Linked DNA regions of Homo sapiens: all the other regions are reported to be linked to region 3. Evidence: microRNA targets listed by miRTarBase, many of them from high-throughput screens and not tested one by one. Region 3 holds a microRNA gene; each other region holds the end of a gene's coding sequence.
What was found. Region 3 holds the annotated microRNA hsa-miR-3674 (AUUGUAGAACCUAAGAUUGGCC, at 2,378-2,399, opposite strand). A microRNA usually pairs through its seed, bases 2 to 8, with sites in the 3' UTR of a target mRNA and lowers its output. Matches are read on the target gene's strand: a 7mer-m8 pairs with bases 2 to 8, a 7mer-A1 pairs with bases 2 to 7 and ends in A, and an 8mer does both.

Region 1: miRTarBase lists SINHCAF as a target of hsa-miR-3674. Seed matches in the 3' UTR shown: 7mer-A1 at 769-775.
Region 2: miRTarBase lists C2orf69 as a target of hsa-miR-3674. Seed matches in the 3' UTR shown: 7mer-A1 at 1,004-1,010.
Region 4: miRTarBase lists KLHL24 as a target of hsa-miR-3674. Seed matches in the 3' UTR shown: 8mer at 2,838-2,845 and 7mer-A1 at 3,828-3,834.

The regions. Positions count from the first base shown.
Region 1 is chr12:31,279,174-31,283,416 of GRCh38, reverse strand. SINHCAF (SIN3-HDAC complex associated factor) reads left to right here. Exons shown (of 6, transcript NM_001135812.2): 6 at 546-2,833. The coding sequence ends at 705. Among named protein-coding and RNA genes, the nearest start is that of FLJ13224, 43 kb to the left of the region's middle. RefSeq lists a silencer at 4,168-4,243.
Region 2 is chr2:199,924,968-199,929,210 of GRCh38, reverse strand. C2orf69 (chromosome 2 open reading frame 69) reads right to left here. Exons shown (of 2, transcript NM_153689.6): 2 at 938-4,149. The coding sequence ends at 3,325. TYW5 (tRNA-yW synthesizing protein 5) reads left to right here. Exons shown (of 8, transcript NM_001039693.3): 8 at 1-298. Among named protein-coding and RNA genes, the nearest start is that of C2orf69, 16 kb to the right of the region's middle.
Region 3 is chr8:1,798,954-1,803,531 of GRCh38, reverse strand. It overlaps MIR3674 (microRNA 3674), which reads right to left and starts at 2,407; the gene lies at 2,340-2,407. RefSeq lists enhancers at 461-1,121, 1,782-2,443, 2,277-3,476.
Region 4 is chr3:183,678,469-183,682,711 of GRCh38, forward strand. KLHL24 (kelch like family member 24) reads left to right here. Exons shown (of 8, transcript NM_017644.3): 8 at 618-4,243. The coding sequence ends at 818. Among named protein-coding and RNA genes, the nearest start is that of YEATS2, 17 kb to the right of the region's middle.

The DNA of each region.
Region 1 (4,243 bases), not on the chromosome of region 3:
TGGCCAGGCTGATCTCGAACTCCTGACCTCAAGTTATCTGCCCACCTCAGCCTCCCAAACTGCTGGGATTACAGGTGTAAGCCACCACACCCGGCCCACACATGTATTTTTATCTACTCAGTATTTAATTAAAAATTACCACTCAAGCACTTAGGAGTTGATAAAGAAAAAAAATTAAATATATATAAAAAATTGCTAGCTGCATCAGCCTGTTTATGGTGGCTGATTTTTTTTTCAAGAGTTGGTGATTTTGGAGGAAATAGTTAACAACATCAGGGGCAGCCTTTGAAACTGACTGCTGTCTTTCAAAATGCCGTCTTCCTCAATATTTGAGAAGATTCCAGTGTGGCCTTTAAGGCAACTGGGTAATTCCCCTTCTCTAGCTAATTGGGGTTACTCTAGGAGCCCTTTCACTTGGAATGTGCAAGATTGTAGAAGCACAACTCTTTGGTTATATTGGACTAGTTATAATAGTGAGTAGATTTCTTTTGTATTCCTATTTTTCTTCCTTATTAATGTATCTTGTTCTCCATTTTTTCTTTTAGACAGAAGATATGTTGTGGGATCATCTATAAAGGCCGTTTTGGGGAAGTCCTCATTGACACACATCTCTTCAAGCCTTGCTGCAGCAATAAGAAAGCAGCTGCTGAGAAGCCAGAGGAGCAGGGGCCAGAGCCTCTGCCCATCTCCACTCAGGAGTGGTGACTGAGGTTTTTATGTAGAAGGGGAACAAAAAAAAAAATATCTGAATTTTGAAAAACCACAAAGCTACAAACTGACCCTCTTTTTTTTTTGAGACGGAGTTTTGCTCTTGTTACCCAGGCTGGAGTGCAGTGGCGTGATCTTGGCTCACTGCAACTTCCGTCTCCCGGGTTCAAGTGATTCTCCTGCCTCAGCCTCCCAAGTAGCTGGGTTTATAGGTGCCCGCCACCAGACCCGGCTAATTTTTTAGTTTTAGTAGAGACGGGGTTTCACCACGTTGGCCAGGCTGGTCTTAAATGACCCTCTTATTTTTAACTTGGATACCTGCTATTCTGCCAAAAGACAATTTCTAGAGTAGTTTTGAATGGGTTGATTTCCCCCACTCCCACAAACTCTGAAGCCAGTGTCTAGCTTACTAAAAAAAGAGTTGTATATAATATTTAAGATGCTGAGTATTTCATAGGAAAGCTGAATGCTGCTGTAAAGTGCTCTTTAAGTCTTTTTTTTTTTTAATCCCCTTCTAATGAATGAAACTAGGGGAATTTCAGGGGACAGAGATGGGATTTGTTGTATGATAAACTGTATGTAGTTTTTAGTCTTTCTGTTTTGAGAAGCAGTGGTTGGGGCATTTTTAAGATGGCTGGCTACTCTTGTTTTCCCTCATGATAATAAATTTGTCATAACTCAGTAACATGAACTTGCCCCTAGAGGTAGTTGTTAATAATTTTGAAATATTAAGGTCTTGCCAAGCTTCTGATGATTCACACCTGTACTACTGATTATTAAGCAGGACAGACTGAGCTTTCTGTTGCAAATACCTTGGAGGAGAAAGTAATTTCTAAATATACAGAGAGGTAACTTGACTATATATGTTGCATCCTGTGCCTCCCTTCATATTAATATTTGATAAAGATTTTAATTTATGTAAAACTTCTAAAGCAGAATCAAAGCTCCTCTTGGGGAAATGGCAAGTCTTTAGGATAGGCAAGACCCTGTATGAATAGTACCAAAGCATTACCGCATGGTAGAGAACACACTCGATTAAAAATGTTAAGCTATCTGAAAAATAAAATGTGCAAGTCTTCAGGATGGCACAAAACAAAGGTTAATGCTTCTTGGGGCACATTTCTTAGAGGGCTTGCTGAGTGTGTAAATATAATCGACTTTTGTTTGTGTTACATGACTTCTGTGACTTCATTGAAAATCTGCACAATTCAGTTTCAGCTCTGGATTACTTCAGTTGACCTTTGTGAAGGTTTTTATCTGTGTAGAATGGGTGTTTGACTTGTTTTAGCCTATTAAATTTTTATTTTCTTTCACTCTGTATTAAAAGTAAAACTTACTAAAAGAAAAGAGGTTTGTGTTCACATTAAATGGTTTTGGTTTGGCTTCTTTTAGTCAGGCTTTCTGAACATTGAGATATCCTGAACTTAGAGCTCTTCAATCCTAAGATTTTCATGAAAAGCCTCTCACTTGAACCCAAACCAGAGTACTCTTACTGCCTCTTTTCTAAATGTTCAGGAAAAGCATTGCCAGTTCAGTCTTTTCAAAATGAGGGAGAAACATTTGCCTGCCTTGTAATAACAAGACTCAGTGCTTATTTTTTAAACTGCATTTTAAAAATTGGATAGTATAATAACAATAAGGAGTAAGCCACCTTTTATAGGCACCCTGTAGTTTTATAGTTCTTAATCTAAACATTTTATATTTCCTTCTTTTGGAAAAAACCTACATGCTACAAGCCACCATATGCACAGACTATACAGTGAGTTGAGTTGGCTCTCCCACAGTCTTTGAGGTGAATTACAAAAGTCCAGCCATTATCATCCTCCTGAGTTATTTGAAATGATTTTTTTTGTACATTTTGGCTGCAGTATTGGTGGTAGAATATACTATAATATGGATCATCTCTACTTCTGTATTTATTTATTTATTACTAGACCTCAACCACAGTCTTCTTTTTCCCCTTCCACCTCTCTTTGCCTGTAGGATGTACTGTATGTAGTCATGCACTTTGTATTAATATATTAGAAATCTACAGATCTGTTTTGTACTTTTTATACTGTTGGATACTTATAATCAAAACTTTTACTAGGGTATTGAATAAATCTAGTCTTACTAGAAAATAAAAGGAGCTGTTTTGTGGCTTTGTTTGACAGGTCTTCAGTAAGAATAATGTTTTTGGCTTTCACATATACTCAGTTTAAGTGCTTAGTATTAATAACAAGCCATGAAGGGAATAAATTCCTCTTCACTGAGACATAGACTTTGGAATAAAAGACATTTTAACTGATGTGCACAATTATTAATCTAGTGGATAAGATGGATTTAAAAGGAAGAACAAAATGTTCCCAGTACTTTTTACTGTCTGTGGTTTTATTACTATCTATGGGCATAGTGGGAAGCATCATTGAGACTTTAGGGAAACTATAAAAGTTGGAAGGGTGGTGGCATCAGGGGTTGGATGCTGGTTCTCAAGTTCCTAGCTCTGCCCCTTGTTAGTCATTTGAGTTAAATAATTAATGGGAATATCTACTTCACAGGATTATGAGGAATCCTAAGAGGTGTAATCCATATCAAACTTTTAGAAACCAGTTGTTTTATTACCTGGGAAAGGTAATAAAGGGCCAGACTTTTTATACTACTGTTAGTATTTAAATTTGGGATAGTCTGGATGCCACCTAATACAGTTACTATGAAATTAACAAGGTAACTAAGGAAGTTGATAGTACCAGTATTATCTATTGCTATGTCCTAAATTACCATAGATTTAGTGGCTTAAAACAAATGCGTCTCAGTTTCTGTCTGAGCATGGTTTAGATAGGTCCTTTAGAAAGCTCATGGTCTCATCTGCATTCTCACCTGGTGATTTGGGAAGAACTCATTTCAGCCTCACTCGGCTGGCAGAATTCAGTTCTTGCCACTGCAGGACTGAGTGTCCAGACCTCTCACTGGTTGTCAGCTGGAGGCCCCCGCTTAGTTCCTTGCCAGCTGGGTGCTCCCTGCATGGCCTGGCTGCTGACTGGACCACTGACATGATTACTGTCACTACCAGCAAGTGTCGAGAGCCAAGCTGCCAGCAAGAGGGGTCTTTTCAGGTCCTGCCCATATCCAAGGGGAGAGGCTCATACGAAGGATTGGATACCAAGAGGTGCGGGTGGGGCTAATGGGAAGGCACCTAGAGTTTGTCACAGCTTTTTTTTTTTTTAACTGAATCTCTTTAAATTGGTCGTCTCGCCCTACAATGCAAATGCTTTGTGTAGCAAGTAAAAAGAAAAATGGCTCTCACAATATGAAAAACCCTGGCTGGGCACTGTGGCTTATATAAACCTGTAATCCCAGCACTTTGGGAGGCCCAGGCGGGTGGATCCCTTGAGGTCAGGAGTTCAAGTCCAACCAGGCCAACATGGTGAAACACCGTCTCTACTAAAAATAAAAAAATTAGCCAGGCATGGTGGCATGCGCCTGTGGTCCCAGCCACTCGAGAGATTGAGGCAGGAGAATTGCTTGAACCTGGGAGGTAGAGGTTGCAGTGAGCTGA
Region 2 (4,243 bases), not on the chromosome of region 3:
TCCCTTCCCCCTCCCCCAACCCCACGATGTAGTCTCTTTCTAAGTTCCATTAAACAGAATACTAAAATGACCTTTTTTGGTGACTCTTGCCTGTCTCTACCACTAACTGGCTTAAAAGCTGCTGGGTCTCTTCCTTTGTAAAGAGCAACATGAGTTTACAGATGAGGTCTGTCTATATCTCCTCTTATGTTTTTCTCTTAAGAACTTCAAGTGAAATAAAACAAAATAGCTCTTTTATGAATACTACCTTTTGTATTTTACCTCATAAGATTTAATGTATTAAACATTTCTATACCAACATGCTGGGACTTTGTATTGTCTGTCCTATATCCTCATTGCCTAGACCCTCCTTGACCTTGGTGGTTACTTAGATAGTACATGAATGAAATGAAAAATAGATTACACCATACCCTAACCAAGTCTTGTAAGAAGCTAAAGGACTACAAATCCCTGAGATGATTAGCACAGAAAAGAGAAAAGGATGAACTTGTTAGAGGTTTTGTTCTCTATGAAATCCAATAAAAGAAGTGGATATAGTGCAAATTTTTATGGAGCAATTTTAAAGGGAGAAGGTATGTATTTGTACAAAAAAGGTTCAAAGTTGCTCATTTGAAAAGACATGGAAGATAATGAAAAGATGCACAGTAAGTCCTCACTTAATGTGCATAGGTTCTTAGAATCTGTGACTTTAAACAAAAGGACAAACAGCAGGTCCTCAACGTTTTGTTCGTTGTCATCTAGTTAAAACAATGATGAGAAAAAAATTGGTTTTGTTATATCAGTTTGCTTCAAGTCTCAGTTTCCAAGAACCTACTGATATGTTAAGTGAGGACTTACTGTATACAAACCCAACTTAGCAGGGTGGAGAAATGGCTTCCTTTATAAATAATCTGAAGTTTTAACAATGCTAATAAATATAAAGCACATCCAAACAAACTTCTGTGGATGATCAATTTTAATACAATTATACATTCATGCTGTGGTGGTAACAACTTTCACATTATTTGTAGGACTACTTTTCTCAACTCATGACAAAGGCACAATCCAAAAGTGTAAATTAACATTACAATAAGTTTTAAACAAATGTGGACAAAGGACCAATCTGAAGTATTAAACAGAAAACATCTGAATATGGATCAACTTGAATATATTTTCATTCCAGAAAATATTTTGTCTTTTCAACACTGTCTCATTTTGCTATGATGGCAGTTTTGTGTACCTGGTGACTTACTCTTAATACCCATTCAACATGTAACAATTATAATTAAGCATTCACATACTGGATAGACAACCTAGATTTTTAAATATGTCTGATTTTTTAAAATTATTTTTAAATGAATTATTCTGCTAAATGTCTTACTTTTCCATTTCAGTTAATCATGTGAAAATAAATGCTTTTTCTTCCCCTTATAGAATTCAGTAACTCAGCTATTTTCCTTTAGATACATGTGAATTTAGCCAAGGATTATTAAACAAATAGAAAAAAAGCCATCCAATCATAGTGCTTAAAGGCAATGTAATATGTAAAATGTTAAAATCAGGCTGATTTATTTCCTTGATGGGAATTTTTGGTCTCAAAAGAAACGAGGTATTTAAAGAAACTGAAGCAACATAATACTACTTTGTCTTTAAAAAAAAAAAAAAAGCCATTTAGAGATGCTGTTCTGCAGTTTATAAAATTAAGTGTTAAAACACCAAAAAGAAATGTTATTTTTAAACATTTGTTAAGAATCCTTTCTCATGAATCTCTGAATATTTGGAATGTATTTATGGAGTCATTAAAATATAATTCTGGGAAGAAACCAAGAAATTAACATTTTTATTCTATATGGCTTTATAAATCTAGGTCTTCTGGGTCATTAAGGTATTAAGCTTCAGTGTCTTTTTTTTTTTTTTTTTTTTAGTCCTAAAGCAGCATGTTACTTCCCTGCTATTTCATTACCTGCAAAAGCTAATTATTAATAAACAACAAACTGCTCACCTTTTATTGTAATCACCCAATTACAATGTCAATGTTGGTTGACATTTATTAGATCTGGATTTCTCAAAGTGTATTTATCTAGGTCAAGAAAAACGGGCAGAAGGAAACTTCACCCAAATTATGTAGCAGTGTTAAGCAAATTCAGTTTTTGAGCCAAAATTAAATCATTTGTGTCTTCAAACTTTCCCTTGTAACTTTTCTTATAGCAATGTAATTTTGCATTTTGGCCAAAGAGAGCTATTTTCTTTTGGCAGACAAAATCATGCTTCTGGAGAAACATTGACTTAGATCTATGGAATCTGTTTCCTTTTTAATAGAGCTCTAACAAATAGAGCATTATATATTTATTTTATCCAAGTTGATCCTTTCAAAAAGACTGATATAATGAAAAATTTGAAATTTGCTCTGTAGTACATTTTTATCCAATATACATAAATATGCTCAATTTAAAGCAATTTTCCAAAACAACTGGTTTTTGGACAAGATTCAAGAAACCCCAGAATGTCTTACCCAAAATAATGATAAACTGACAATTAAAAATTAAACAATAGTGCTTAAGTGTAATTTTGTTTTGTTTTGTTTTAGAGATGAAGTCCCACTATGTTGCCCAGGTTGGAGTGCAGTAGCTAGTCACAAACACAATTATGGTGAACCACACAGCCTGGGCTCAAGCAATCCTCCTGCCTTAGCCTCCTGAGTAGCTGGAACTAAAGGCACGTGCCACCACACCTGGCTATGTTTTTAAAAACCACCTTTACACTATTGTACACTTGTGGACATTTGGAAACAAATATATGTTGACTCTCATGAGAAAAGTACTTGGTGACACATGAAAGAATGAGTCAAGGAGTTTACAAAAACACAAAAGGCAGGGTGCAGTTATTCCAAAATGATAGAAAACAGCATCGTACCTTTGCTTTTGTTTGAAGAGAAATGAAAATATTTCCACTCAAAATAGCTAATTACTGTTAAAATGTCACCAAATTAGTTTAAAACATTACTCAGAAAATCAGTTATTTCCAACAGTAACAATTTTAGTTACCTTTTATAAGAACAATGTTGTAACTTTCATTTTAAGGGTCTTATATCTCCTCAGCATTATTACAAACCACCTTGTTAGATTTCAAATTAACTAATTCTAACTCAATCCAAATTAATAACTGCTCACATTCACAAGCAAAAAATACTATTGCACATTACACTCACATTTTAGGAATGTGTGCTTCCCCCCATACCCCAAAACTGACAATGCAGCTATGAATTACATCCCATTATCTGAATTTATAACACTCAAAAGTGCTTATGTTCTTCCACTGAACAAGTTCATTAATATACCTGTAATCTCAAAATACTTCATGAACCCTGAAGTGATTCTCTATGGAAGGAGCTTCCTTTGTAAAATGAATTTGGCTAGTCACCTGCATACCAAGATCCCCAAGTATCTGAACAAATTTCTTGTGCTCCTTTCCAATCCAAGATCTCATTGGATCACGTACTTGGTAAGGTGTTACATGAGTGTGAACGATAATTCCTGTTTGTGCAAATTCTTTCAAGACTTCTGGATAAGTAACCCAAGTATTGCTTCCTCCAGAATGACCACCATCCAGCCAATACATTGTTCTTATGCTTTTGATAAAAGCATCTATGTTCTTGTCTTTCTTGGCTTCTTTCAATTCAAAAAGCAACTGATTCAAAACAACACAACCTTTACTGAATCCAATCAAAGTAAAAGATGCGTCATTTAGTGATGGTGGATAAAAACTCATGGCAGACTCATCAGATTTTTCACAGGTCCTCACTTTTTCTCCCTGGCAACCATTCGTAGTATGAGAAGGACTGGATCTACAGTTAGATGCTATGGAGTCCTTATTCCAAACATTCAAACTTTTCTTTGATAAACTATTCTGACTTAAATTAAAAGCATTAACTAATAACATATAAAGGTGCTTAAAAGCTCCAAAGTCAGTATTGTGTTCTGGGGCACCAAACATGTTACTTTTCACAAAATTGTCATAGCAGCTGAATTTGTGCAAATGCATTCGGGAACATTTTATCACCCAAATATAACTATTGGGGAACCGGTGGGCTAAAATGGTAGCAACATTTTCTAGACTCCAGTTTTCCCATTGATAATTCTCAGGATGACGAGTCATAATTTCATGGTAATTCTGAAAGGTAAGAAAGATGAAATAAGTATTAAATACATATTTACATAAAATGATTTCCACAAAATAAGTTTCCATTTTTATTGTGGAGAAGGGA
Region 3 (4,578 bases):
CCAACATGGTGAAAACCCATCTCTACTAAAAATACAAAAATTAACCAGGTGTGGTGGCAGGCACCTGTAATCCCAGCTACTCGGGAGGCTGAGGCAGGAGAATCGCTTGAACCCGGGAGGTGGAGGTTGCAGTGAGCCAAGATCACGCCACTGCACTCCAGCCTTGGCAACAAAACTCTGTCGCAAAAAAAAAAAAAAAAAAATCAGATCTCGTGAGAGTTATTCACTATCGCGAGAACAGCATGGGGAGAACCGCCCCCATGATCCAGTCACCTCCGGCCAGCTGTGTCCCTGGGGACTGCAATTCAAGATGAGATTTGGGTGGGGACACAAGGCTAACCATATTACTTGCCAAGGTTAAGGATGAGCCCGTGACACAGCCTCAGGAGGTCCTGACCACATGTGCCCAGGGTGGTCGGGGCACAGCTTGGTTTTATACATTTTAGGGAGACGTGAGACATCAATCAGTAGGTGTAAGATGCACATTGGTTTGGTCTGGAAAGATGGGACAACTCAAAGTGGGGGCTTCCAGGTCACAGGCAGATAAGAGACAAACAGTTGCATTCTTTTGAGTCTGGGATTAGCCCTTCTTTCACCAAATACACAATTTACATGTGAAAGGGGGGTAGAGGAACAGTCACTCTTGCCTTAGTCTGGCTTAGTGAATCTGCATTTTTTTCTTATTTTTTAGAGACAGGGCCTGGCTACATGGCCCAGGATGGTCTCAAACTCCTGGACTCAAGCAATCCTCCTGCCTCAGTTTCCTAAAGTGCTGGTCTTACAGGTGTGAACAACTATGCCCAGCCTGCATCTGCAGTTTTAAGTAAAATGGGAGGCGGGATTCCCTGATGCAGTTCCCAGCTTGATTCTTCCCTTTGGCTTAGTGACTTGGGGTCTCGAGATTTATCTTCCTTTCACAAGAGCCTGTGGTTCCACCGTAAGGACTGGAGTGGCCGATGCAGGGGGAGGAGTTTTGGGTGTGGCCACAGAGGCAGCTCCCAGCAAAGGCTGGCCACTGCATCCCCCTTCCTCACTCTGACTCCAGTCTTTCTGGCCATGAAACTTGACCTCTGTCATTTCAGGGGTTTCTTGTGGCCCCTCCACCCAGGCTAGCCCAGCTGAGCCCTCGAGGCTCCTCCTGCACCCTAGGCCTTGTTCCTATCACTTCCAGAGCCTGTCTGGTCAGTCCGAAGGTCTCTGTGTTAATGTTAATGCCATCGGCTGTTCCTGACCCCAAAGGGAGAGGATACAATGAGGCGTATCAGACCCTCCCCTTCCCGTCCGGCCTGACTTGTTTTTCAGGTTTGTTTGGAATCCTCTTGGCCAAGAGTAGGGGTCCATTCAGTTGGATGGGGGGCTTTTGGTTTTCGGAATTTTATTTTTGGTTTAAAACGGATGCTCACATGGGAGCCTGGGCCCAGAGCGGCCCAGGAAAGCACGTTCCAATGCTCCCTGCAGTGATCTAATGCGCTCAGAAGGTGGGAATGACTGTTCTAGTTCCCAGAGCCCCTTTTGCAGGGGACAGATGCTGGTGTAGAGTCCATGGTGCATTCAAGTCATGTTTCCTGCCCATTCCATCCGAGTGCAGTAGCCTCAGTATCTCATGCTACTAAAGTGATTGTCCAATCACTGTCACCGCCTGAAGGCTGGCTACAAAATTAAGAAATTAAAACTCCTGCCCACTGCACAGAGAAAACCAATTCACTGAAACCATGGTGTTGCAATAAAGAAAGTTTAACTGACACGAGGCCAGCCACGCCACGTGGGAGATGGAGTTATTCCTTTCATGCGCGTCCGTGTGAAGAGACCACCAAACAGGCTTTGTGTGAGCAAAATGGCTGTTTATTTCACCTGGGTGCAGGCGGGCTGAGTCCGAAAAGAGAGTCAGCGAAGGGAGATAAGGGTGGGACCGTTTTATAGGATTTGCGTAGGTAAAGGAAAATTACAGACAAAGGGGGTTTGTTCTCTGGCGGGCAGGAGTGGGGGTCGCAAGATGCTCAGTGGGGGAGCTTTTTGAGCCAGGATGAGCCAGGAAAAGGACTTTCACAAAGTAATGTCATCACTTAAGGCAAGGACCAGCCATTTACACTTCTTTTGTGGTGGAATGTCATCAGTTAAGGTGGGGCAGGGCATATTCACTTCTTTTGTGATTCTTCAGTTACTTCAGGCCATCTGGGCATATACGTGCAAGTCACAGGGGATGCGATGGCTTGGCTTGGGCTCAGAGGCCTGACCATTACTTAAATCAATTTCCCTGAAAATTTGGAGGCTACTGTATTTCAAGGGTAGTTTAGCAGGCCAGGGAGTCCGCTTCTGAGTGGGGCCACAGGATCAGTCGGACATCAGAAATGCAAAAACTTGAAAGGACATCTCAAACGGCCAATCTTAGGTTCTACAATAGTGATGTTTATCTGCAGAAGCTGCAAATCTTGTGACCTCCAGAGTAATGGCTGGTCGTCGTTTACATCTATATTTTAGCAGAATCCAGGCTCCTCTCATCCTCCTAACCTACTGGCCTTTCATTAGCTTTACACAGGCAGTTCAGTTCGGGAGAAGGGCTATTATCGTTTAAACTATAAATATCTTCCAAAATTAGTTTGGCCCAGGCCTAGGAGTGATGAAAGACAGTTTGGAGGTCAAAGGCAGGATGGGGGTTGGTTAGATCAGGTATCTTTCAACGTCATAGTTTTCTCACTGCTGTAATTTCTGAAAGGTGGTTTCATCACTTCCAAGAGGGTAGAAGACATGTCCTACTCTGGCGGCAATTCCTGCGGGTGGCTGAAGGACTGAATCTGCACAGAGCGGCTGTCAGAGGCCAGTGCGTTCTCTGCTCCTTGTGTTCCTATCACCCAACTCTCCTGTAAGCCAGGCAATAAGAGACGGGAGAAAAACATCCTCATGCAAAGCAGCCGGACCCAAAATGAAGAAATGAAAAGATCAGTGGATCGTTAAGACCCGAAGTCAAATTTTTAACATGCCCCTGACTTTGTGGTTTTAAACTTGCCTGTTTGAGACATGTAAATACTCACTGATTTATAAAAACACCAGTCATCAGGCGTGCCAGTTTGATTCCAGAGAAAACAGTAGAGAGTGCCTTATCGGGAAGAACAAATGGCTGCCCTTATCTAGACGCTTTCACTTACTGCATGGTTCAGCACACGGCATTTTCATGATATGCAGAAACCATCTTCATAAAAAGTAATTTTCCACTTGCCCAATTAAATAACTGTCAAAGCGTATTTCCGAGGAAATTACACTGCATTGTTCTTAACTTTGCTTAGTTGTTAAAAAAAAGTTGACATTTTATTGTGAAATAAAACATATGCAGAAGAATTCACAAATCACACATTTACTAAATGATTATAAAGCAAATAGCTATGTAACCAGATCACAAGCAGAGCCCTGCCAGCACCCCAGAACCCCCACGGATCCCATCCTAACCACAGCCCCATTCCCTCATTGGGAAATGTGTTTGGTTTTATTTGCAAGCCAACCCATAACCTCACCTCATGTTCCAAGAAAGTCCCACAGTGATATGAGGCCAATCTGTTCAGCTATTTTTATAGGGAATTCTTTACCGCCTAAATCCAAAATACTTCCAAAATACTTCCCACTTCTGGGAGCCTGGAACTCACTCCCACGCTCTTGGCCTCATCCAGGGAGGAGCTTTCTCGCAAACCTGTCGCTCCAGGTCCTAAGAAACCAGATTTTATTAAAAGATTGGGTTTAGGACAATTAGGTAACTGATTAGTCTATCACAGTTGTCTGTGACAAGAACATAAATATTAGAGTTGAGACGTCAATTTTGTGAATAAAACCAAGCAGAAACCCTAACAAAGGCAAGAAGGGGTTTGTTTAGATCAGATGCAAGGGCTTCTGGTCCAACAGGCAGACAGAGCCCTCATGTCCATCCATTTCCTGCTGAAACCTGGCTAAAAATATTTAAGTGTTGAAAGTAGAGAAAGAAGATAGAAGGCATGGCCGGGTGTAGTGGCTCACACCTGTAATCCCAGCTCTTTGGGAGGCCGAGACAAAAGGATTGTTCAAGGCCAGGAATTCAAGGCCAGCCTGGGCAACATGGTGAGACCCTGTCTCCATTTAGAAGAAAAAGAAGAAGAAGAAGAAGAAGAAGAAGAAGAGGAAGAGGAAGAGGAAGAGGAAGAGGAAGAAGAAGAAGAAGAAGAACAAGAATTGGAGGAGGAGGAGGAGGAGGGGGAGGAGAAGGAGGGGGAGGAGGAGGAGGGGGACGGGGAGGGGGAGGGGGAGGGGGGAGGGGGAGGAGGAGGAGAAGAAGGAGGAGGAGGAGAAGAAGAAGGAGGAGGAGGAGGAGAAGAAGAAGGAGGAGCAGGAGGAGGAATACAATGGTCCAGTGCCAAGACAGTGAAAGGCAGAGGGCCATGGCAAAGTCTGAGGGCTGGAGGCAGATGGACAGATGATGGACGAATGGGCACCGGTGAGGCCAACCAGAGGAGGCTACCGGAGCTACAGGGAGAGCCTTTCAGGCATCTCTGAAAGGGGACATCAGGCGAGGCTGAAAGCAGGAGGCACAGGATCACCAGGTCCTGCTCCACACCCAGG
Region 4 (4,243 bases), not on the chromosome of region 3:
CACATCCTACCTCCCACATCTTGGCCCCAATTACTAACATATAATCTTTTTTTTTTTTAACTTTTATTTTAAGTTCAGGGGCACAAGTGCAGGTTTGTTACATAGGTACACTGTGTCATGGGGGTTTGTTGTACAGATTGTTTCATCATTCAGTTCTTAAGCCCTAGTACCCATTAATTTTCCTGATCCTCTTCCTCCCCCAACTCTGCACCTTCTGAAAGGCCCGTGTGTGTGTTGTTCCCCTCTATGTGTCCCTGTGTTGTCATCATTTGGCTCCCACTTATAAGTGAGAACATGCAGTATTTGGTTTTCTGTTCCTGTGTAAGTTTGCTAAGGGTAATGGCCTCCAGCTCCATCCACGTCCCTACAAAGGACATGATCTCGTTATTTCTTGTGGCTGCTACTGACATAGCATCTATCTTGAAATTCATTTCATTCATGCAAAGTTGTCCAGCGCTTACACAGAACACAGAGAGCAGAGTTGGGCCAAAGGACCTTAGCTTTTATCATGTCTCCCTTTTTTTTGACTGTGCTAAAGCATTATTTTGCTTTTCTGTTTGTTACCAAATCCTTTATCTTCAATGGTTAATTTTTTGTTTATATATTTGGTTAAACAGGAAAACTGTGGTATGTCTGTGTGTAATGGTAAAATATATATCCTGGGCGGAAGACGGGAAAATGGAGAAGCCACAGACACTATTCTCTGTTATGATCCTGCAACAAGTATCATCACAGGGGTAGCTGCAATGCCCAGGCCAGTGTCCTATCATGGCTGTGTGACTATTCATAGATACAATGAGAAATGCTTTAAACTCTGAAGACAGGATACCTCACCGAAGAAGCCACACTGATCCAAGATGGGAGGTTTTAAAAACTCTACAGTGGGAACTTCACATATCTCCTTTGTGCCATATGCAAAAAATAGTAAAAATAATAATTTGGTGCCTTTCTCCTCAAAATATCAATCTTTCAAACTATAATAAAGCCTTTCCTATAATTGAAAAAAAAAACTTTTTTGTTAAAGGTAATGGTGGTTGTTACTTGGCCTTTGAAGAGTGTACCTTTGTAAGTATTTGTAAGAAGTCTATGTGAATTAGGAAATGTCTGTCTGCATACCTTTTAGGAGCGTGTGAATGGTGTCTTCACTTATTATGTATGTTTATCTGTATGTATATTCCTTATTTTGTCATATATGTAGAGAAAATTGCATGACTTGAGGCATCATTTAGGTTGAAGAAGTTAATGCTTAGGATGCATTCTAGGAGAAAAAATCAGTTTTAAAAACCTTTGTTGTTAACAAAGTATATCCAGATTGGTTAATTTTATTGAAGGGTTTTTTTCTGTAATTGATAAAAATGTAATGACAACAATTCAGGCATCATAAAATACTGAACTATTGTGACTTTATTCTTAGAATTGCTGTCTTACATTAAACATGTTTTTAGGGGGAAGTTAGGTAGGAGATAGAAAAATAAGTGCCCCTACAAGGGGGATTAAAATTACAAGTTAATTCCTAAGAGAAAAATGGAATGGCCTTTGAAGGAAAAATGACCCACTATGGCTCTCAAAGTTTTTATGCATCATCTCTTCAATCCTCTAAGAAAGCCTCTTTTCTTAACTTGATAAAGCAGTGGAAACCCATTTTGCAATATTGTTTTGTGAAAAACAGGGACAGACAGCCAGGTACAGAGACTCACACCTGTACTCCCAACTACTCAGCAGGCTGGGGCAGGAGGATTGCTTGAGCCCAGGAGTCTGAGGCTACAGTGAGCTATGAACGCACACGGCACCCTAGCCTGGGCAACAGGTTGCGACACTGTCTCAAGAGAAAAGAAAAAGAAAAATAGGGATAGGTTTTCCTTCCTAGCCCAGTAGAGTTTGACCTCATTAGTATGGTGCTTTGGGTGAGGACCTCTTCCTTGATTATCCCACTTTCTAGTGAACAGCTAAAATTCCTGAGAGTCTCTACTGTTAAGGTACCTTTAATAGGATAAAGCAGGGACCACCTATCTCAGTGGGTCCATTTTTCTTTTAAAATTAGTTATCTGAAAAAACTTAGCAGTAGTTCCCATCTTTAAGGTAAGTCTTTCATTTGGTCCCCATTGTGTAAAATACTAATCAACATTTTCAAGCTTCTGTACAACAGACTGCTTTTGTCTAGATTTCTCAACTCCACTTTATAAAGCTTATCAGTTTTCAGAGAGGAATGTGAATTTTTTTTCTAATGCAAATAAATGGATATGGCAGGAACTACAGCATAAGTGATTATTGTGATTCTGGGTGGACGGATATAATTTACAACATTTAGGGATGTTCTAGGTAGCCTGCTGTAGTTTGACTTCCAGTCACTGTTGTCTTTCACATTATAATTTGTATATTTCTTGTGATAGAAGGGATGATGCAAATATGTAATTAAAGTGTCACCAGATTTCTGTTAAAACCAAGGTTGAAATAAAAAGCCTAACATTGGTAAGCTACATTGTTTTCTCATTTTAGAATGATTCAGAGATTTCAGATAGACATTTTTTAAACTTTAATGCTTAGCTAGAATCTACATTCTGAGGAAAACTCTAAAAAACTTAAAAATTTTTAGGGAATTTTTATTTTTCAAATCATAATTTTAAAATGATAGATACCATTTTGTGATAACAACAATTCAGAAAACAATTTTCTATCCTCTTAGTTGAAAGAATGTAGGTACAGTTTGGATACTTGTACTTTAATTTTAGAGTAAACATCTGCATTATACTCTTATAGATAATAGAATTATTTAGTTAAGAAATTCTTTACAGTAAATGAGATAATGTGTGAAAAAGTATTTTGTAAATGCTGAGGATTCTACAAATGATAGTTGTTATTTTCATGTGTATTTGTAAGATCATGTCCATTTCATGAATATAGGACTTCACATAAAAAAAGACTTTCTCAAGACAACTTTATATTCTAGTATTTTTCTGTTGTAAAAAGTATTAACTATTTACTTTTATTTTGTTATACATTTATTTTAATATCCATGTGTTTATTATAGTAAATTTGAAATGAAATCCTGAAAAACAGAATTTTTTTAAACACAGACCTCACACCAATATTAATTTTTTCTCTACATAATTTAAAACTACATAAATTAAGTACTTAAAATTTATATTGAAGGCCACCAAGAACTTAGGTTGAATCTTAGAAAATTTAAATAACTATTTTTAAAGTTACCCAACTTAATATTTTAATTTTTTAATATTTATCTTCCTTTACTAATTCTTGATAAATAATAGCATTAGACTTGATAAAATAAAAAAGAATTTTAGAGTAGAATTAATATATCAAAAGGGGTATATCAACCAAATTGGTGTCAGATTGTATTCATTCTCTCATCACATAAAGATTTTTCTTTTGATAGGTGATGCTCATATGAACCTTTGGTTTAGAATCTATATATGTACATGTGTATGTATGTAGATAGTATGGTTGTATACACACATATATACCAAACACCATGAATTTTAGCAGTCTGTGATGATCAGCAAAAAAGCACATAAAGTAAAAATTAGTTGACCATGCTAAATTCAATTCTGGAATTTTTTTTTATTTGGGCATTTCTAGAACTTTTTACATTTGAAAGTACATGATGAGTATTAGTAACGATGACTTATGTATAATCAGAATCTTTATGACAATTTAGTTTTACAAGGTCAGAAGAGATGAGTTTGCTAAACCCAGCTGTGATACCTCAGTTGGAAAGGGAATTCAAAGGTATGCTTTGTAGAACAGAAAAGTATAGTTTTTTTTTCATGAACTTTAATCATTTTCTGTTTTTCCTCTATGTGAGTCAGCTACAAAAGTGGTCTAATTTTTACAACAGTAGAACTTCCTCCTTTTCTACTGTAATCTTCCCACTGACTTTACTGCACAGGTATGAAATACTAGTGTATTGGATCTTCAGTAACCTTTTTATTTCCTAGATGATTGAAATATAGGTATTTACTCCATTTAAACCAGGTGATAAGATGATGTAAATACTCAGGGAGGGTATTAACTTGTTACTTTTGCTCGTTTGGGGTGTAAAGTGCCATGACTGAATAATCTTCAATTCATGATTCTAGAGTAAGTTTAATTTGGAAAAAGGGGCTTCACACATGGTGGTGGTTGAACATTGATTCTTTTATACTTAAAAAGATGAAAATGTTTTGTGGACTGATACATTTTATCTTACTGAATATGAATTGTTTATGTATCTCTACTGTCAAAT